Linked DNA regions of Homo sapiens: region 1 is linked to region 2. The links come from fine-mapping of genetic effects on gene expression. A gene starts in region 2. The other region holds a variant in brackets. All regions are shown on one strand. Distances are between the middles of the regions.

Region 1 (2,911 bases), 95 kb after region 2:
GTGACTGTAAAAACTTCCACTCATGAAGCTTAGCATGCATTGACTACCTACTATGGATTGGGCTTGATATTGAGGATAGAGAAGAACAAAACAAGTCTAGCAGAGCAGGAAAGTGTGTGTGTAAATACGTTGTAGCCACCACCCTCTGGAGTGGCTCTCCATTTCACCAAGAATCCCTTAGGCCCTCCCCAGCAGCACTCTTTCCCCTTCTATGCCCAGGAGCCTGCACCACAATTGTATTATGTGATGTAGCCCTGAATGGATAATGGCCCCTGCACAACCAGGCAACATTGTCTCTCCCAGGAATTTGAACCTTTAACTAAGAGTTTTAATTTAGCCTGGGCAAGCCTGGTGAATGACAGACTCAAAACTGAAGATTATGGAGCAGCCACTTCTGCTTGTTATGTTGGCTGAGAAGTAGAAATATAGAAATAATCAGTGTGCAGAGTAGAGTGCAGCAGAGAGAGAGAAACAAGGATGGAGGAGGGAGAAAGAATAATTAGATGACTGAATGAATCCTGGAGAGCCTTGCTTCCCACCAGTTGTTGGTTCCAGACCCTCCAGCCGCATTCCAACACCCCAGTGCTTGAGGCCCCCTACATTTCCTTTTTTGTGGTTTTAGCCTTGATTTTTTTTTTCTTTGGAACCAAGAGTTCCAACTAATAAATGAGTGTAATAACTTGTTATTGGCATTATAATGGAAGTGGGTACAGAACAAATTTTAACCTATCTTATTTATACAAATAGAGTACAGATGTCAATTGTACTTAATGTTAAATAGGCCAATGACAACTCATTTTTGTTCTTAAATCCTTTCCACTATAAACATTTATGCACAGCAACATTTGCAAGACACTGAGCCTTGGCAGTGAGTGTAACAAGATGCATAGCAATGGTGGGCAACCTTATTTTGATCAAGAGAAAATTAGGAAAAAGCAAAAATTACTTACAGGCTATATTTCTCTCTCATTCAAAATGGCTTTATTGTTGATCTTATGGGGAAAATTGTATTTTTGCAACTCAGGTGATTTATTTATTGAAGAGAAGAATGCCAACAAGAAAACTTTTTCGGCCTCTGAAAGATTATAACATGTTCCGGTTTAAGGATTTGTAACTCCAGACAGCTCTAATTGTCCATCTCTTATGTTTGGACTGCACCTTAATTTTCACCACATGAGTTCATCTGCATTAGCCCCAAGTATCCTTCCATCCCCCTCATCAACAAAATCTGGCCCATGAGGTATTATTATCCTCATTTAGAGGATATGGAGAAATTAAGGCTCTGTTTCAAAGCAAGTCTGTAAATTCTTTAACATTCTTCCCATCAAGAAGAGAGATCTATCTCCTGCCCTGGAACATGGGCAG[C/T]GCTTTTGACTGTCTCCGTGCATATAATATGGTGGAAGTGACACTGCTTGACTTGTGAAGCTGGATCACAATGGGTTATTGACTTCCACCAGCCTGTCTCCGGGGACAGGTGACTTCATGTAAGAAGTCCAGCTACCCTGACAGAGAGTCCACATTGGAGGGAGCACACTGTAATAGACAGAGGTGCCTGAGGAGCCCCGGCTGTTCCAGCCGCCAGCTATTTAGGTCTTCCCAAGTCAGGCACCAGAGAGTATGAATGGAAAGGCCTTCAAGAGAACTCTAGCCCCAGCCATTGTCTGATTGTCACTGCATGAGGACCAAAAACTACCTAGCTGAGCCCCATCAACCCCTAAAGAAGTGAAAGATAGTAATGACAAATGCTTGCTGTTGTTTTATAGCACCAAGCTCTGAGTGGTTTGTTGTGCTGCAGGCTCCAAGAGAAGTAACTTTCTGAGAGCACTCAGGAATTTCTTAGTGGAACTGGGGCTAGAATCAATTCACTGCATTTAATGCAGTATTAACCAGACAACTGTGTTGGGCCCTGGGGACCAGAGAAGAATTAACACACAGCCCAAGCCTTCCCCTGGTCTGAGCTTCCTCTTCCCACCTTCATATTCATGGCAGCTTCTTCTTGCTGGGAGTGGGATAGAGGAGCCCTAGGGCTGCTGGCTTCTGGAAGGAACTGGCTCCAGGGCACCCTGGCTATTCCCTTGCTCCATGCTGTGTGCAGGTGGCTCTGGCACCAAGAGGTGGCACCAAACCTGCTGCCAGCCTTGGCTTTCTCACCAGTCCTGCTCTGATGAGTTGACAGGCTGTGTTTGGAATTGAGCATGGCGGTATTACAAAGGCAAGTGGGTACCACACAACCTGCCCGCAGTGTTGCTTTGTTCTGATGAATTACACTGAGTCCCTGGATTCACATTTGGCTGGATTGTCAGGAAAAATATGTGTTCTGGGTGCCACCTGATCTTTTCATCTAGCTTCTGTCCTCAGGTAAACATTCCCTGTTAAAATTCTAAATGTTCATCTGCTTCCTCTAAAGAGATTGGTAAAAAGGCATAAAACACCTAAGAATCAGTGTTACTTGTAATGAGCCCAGGGCTGCCGCAGGGAGCACCATATACATAGAATACCAGGTGAGTGAGTGGGGCCCTCAGGGCTGAAGTATTATGCTCTAGGCCAGAAAAAGGATATTTTCTTTTTATTCCTGGGATACAGATAATGTATTTTCACATAACAGCCACATGTTTCATGAATTAAGCCAACAAATATTTACCAAGTATCCTTTAAATCCTTTAGTATTTAAAGTATCATTTTTTGCAAAAAAAAAAAAAATATGAGGGCCAACTTATTTTTGCCTGTCATGAAATCAAAGGCCAATTAAATAATCATTTCCAAATTTATATTTCTGTTTTATAGGTTTTCTTTATTCAAGGCATTCTTGTACAGTAAAGGGCAGGAAAAGGAGAGGGAGAGGGAAAGGGAGAAGAGGAAGAAGGAGGAAGGTGTGTGTGTTGGGAGTAGGGGGAAGCTTTGCAAATGGTAA
Region 2 (2,911 bases):
TTTTTTACTTAATAATATGTGTTGGGAGCCAGCCATGTGGTGTATGCCTGTAGTCCTAGCTACTTGGGAGGATGAGGTGGGAGGATCAATTGAGCCCAGGAGTTTGAGGCTGCAGTGAGCTAGGATGGAGCCACTACACCCTAGCCTGGGTGGCAGACCAACACCCCGTGTCTCAATAATAATGATGATAATAATAATATGTCTTGGAGGACATTTCTTCTTAGTAGGTACAGATATACTTTATTCTACATAATGCCTCATTCGCTTAGTCACTCTAGGTCATTTACTATTTTTACTATGAAACAAAGTTATAATGAATATCCTTGTACATCCTCCTGAACACATGTGCAAGTATTTCTCTAAAGTAGATCCCTAGAAGTAGAAATGCTTGGTTAAAGGGTACATGTATTTAACATCTTAATAAATATTTCTCAATTACCATCCAAAAAAGAGACGGGTGGGGGGTCTCTACCAAATTGCCCTCCCAACCGCCTAGGAGCGTTACTACCCTCAGGTAGGACCTCCTCTTTCTTTCCCTAGACATCTCTCTCCCTCATTCTCCACATAACGTATCTTTGCTCGAACCTCCTACTGCACCAACATCCCCATCCCCACTCAAACACGCACATTCTTGGTAAATATCTCACCAACTATTTGTAGAGAAAAAAAGAGGTCAACAAAGGCAAATGTTCTCAGCTTCCTACCCCCAAACCTACAAAACCTAATGTCTATCCCCTTCCTGTCTTCCTTCCCTACTCTTATAACGGCAGTAGGAGGGCAGTCCTTCCTGTTGTCTAAAGGCAATCCTGGTTGAGAGGGTCCTTACCTTCACAAAGGGCTGACTACACTGACCAAAGGTCTCAGCTTCCACTCTTCCCTCCGCTAACCTCCATCTATTTTCTGCCCTCACGGCTCCATGGAAACCTCAGGCTCACCTTGGGCAGAATCCAGCTCCTTATCTTAGGTGACTAGTGCCTACTCCCTACTTCTGACAACATTCTTCATAATGCCAGTCTGCTGATTTTCCTCCTCAGGCTCTCTGGCACTTCTTTCTCACTCCTCCACTCCTCAGGTACTTCTTGTCCAAACCTTAAAATCTGAGTTTGGGGTTTCCGATCTGGGCCTTGTGCTCATTCCCCCTGGGAGATGTCACCCATTCCCCACGTGCAGCCACCATCACCCTCTGTTTTCTCTCTAATCAGCGTCTTCAGCCCTGATCGCCTACAAGTCCGAATTTGACTTCACTTTCTCGCATTCTGCCCCGCCTTCCCTCCACTCCTCCCCAATCCCGAAACCTAGTCCCTCCTCCGGGAAGTCTTTCCTGACTCCTCCCCCTTCTAACTCCCCACCGACGGTCTGTGTCCGCTGCCACGCGTGTCCAGTACCTCGCAGACCTGAGGAATGTAGTTCTCCTTGAAGTAGTTCTTCAGCCTCGGGTTGGCATTGCGTAGCGAGGCCATGGCCCAAGGCCTGACGGAGAAGCTGCGATAGTACCCTCCCCGCGCTGGGACTAGGGGCCGGGCGCGTGCGGGCGTTGTCCCGGCAACCAGGGGGCGGGGCTGGGCGTGGCACCGCCCCGCGCTCCGCTGCCAGGGGCGGGAGGGAGGAATGGTTGCTTCACGCCCCGGGGGAAGAGACGGGAAGCTCGGCTCTGGGTTGCGGGCCCCGGCGTCTCCGCGTGGGGCGCACCGTCCGACCCCCCCCTCCCGGTGTGCAGCGCCCCGCACCGCCCCGCCTCGCCTGGGAGAAGCCGCCGGGACGCGCCGGGCTGGAGTGGGCGGTTATAGGCTTTGAGCTAGGCCGTTTCCGGGAGGCGGAGCTCAGACCCCATTTCCTTTCTCCACATCCAGGTCAGGTGGCGTTTGCTGTGGCGGCTAGGCCCGCGTGCGCTGGAGACCTCCGCGCTGGCCCCCGCGAGCCTCCTGCCCTGGCCCGGCGCTGCGGCTCTGCCGCGGCGGCAGCATGGGTGGCCCCCGGGGCGCGGGCTGGGTGGCGGCGGGCCTGCTGCTCGGCGCGGGCGCCTGCTACTGCATTTACAGGCTGACCCGGGGTCGGCGGCGGGGCGACCGCGAGCTCGGGATACGCTCTTCGAAGTCCGCAGGTGGGACCCCGGGGTTTCCGGCAGGTGGGCGGGGACTGGGCAGGGGGGCTCCCCAGGCCGGGGTGGTGGCTTGCGTGTGCTCGGGGTAAAATGAGGAGCCGAGCTAGAGGGAGAGGCAGTACTTGTGTGAGTGCAGGGTGCTGCGCCGCCCCCGCCGCCCCTTTGCTGACTATACTGGTATGAAAACTTGCCCTGGCTTTCCTGCCTGAGCTCCGCGTCACAGCGGAGGATTAGATTTCTTAAAAACCTGTTGATGGCCTCTCATTTTAAAGCTTGCTCCGGGCCTTTGTGTAACTAAAGGGATTCTCCCGATTGTGGAAGGGCTGTTGAGGGGCCCAGAGCCATAGGTCAATCTCTGCTTGCAGGTGCCCTGGAAGAAGGGACGTCAGAGGGTCAGTTGTGCGGGCGCTCGGCCCGGCCTCAGACGGGAGGTACCTGGGAGTCACAGTGGTCCAAGACCTCGCAGCCTGGTGTGTGTTTTGGAAATGGGAACAGTTGTCTGCGCGAGACACACCCTCCCAGCGGACAAATGCATGATTCGGTTTCTGTCCAAAAGTTGATCGGTACATTAAAACCCTCCAAAGGCATGTTTCACATCATGGAAGCTGTTAGGGAAATAATTTAAAATATCATATCTGCCATCCAAGAAACTCCTGTCCACAATTGTAGAAGAGAGCTAAACAGCTTCATTGTTGAATAAGCACAAACTAAATTGCCTCACACATCACGGGCAATTTGCTAATGGGATAGCAGGAAGAATTCTAATTCCTTTAAATGTAGCTGGACAGATAGAACCGATTTCATATTACA

The links. PIP is the estimated chance that this variant, and not a neighbour inherited with it, causes the effect. A credible set is the group of variants that fine-mapping cannot tell apart.
Region 1: its variant is the best candidate, but not a certain one, in a credible set for the expression of FBXL13 in whole blood (TOPMed, PIP 0.76).

What each region holds. Positions count from the first base shown.
Region 1 is chr7:103,168,158-103,171,068 of GRCh38, forward strand. No RefSeq gene overlaps it. Among named protein-coding and RNA genes, the nearest start is that of NAPEPLD, 21 kb to the left of the region's middle. The variant C/T (reference allele first, on the strand shown) is at 1,366.
Region 2 is chr7:103,073,311-103,076,221 of GRCh38, forward strand. It overlaps FBXL13 (F-box and leucine rich repeat protein 13), which reads right to left and starts at 1,486. Exons shown (of 21, transcript NM_001394494.2): 1 at 1,386-1,486. The coding sequence starts at 1,460. ARMC10 (armadillo repeat containing 10) reads left to right here and starts at 1,830. Exons shown (of 7, transcript NM_031905.5): 1 at 1,830-2,101; 2 at 2,467-2,571. The coding sequence starts at 1,963. RefSeq lists a silencer at 1,417-2,256 and an enhancer at 2,527-2,576.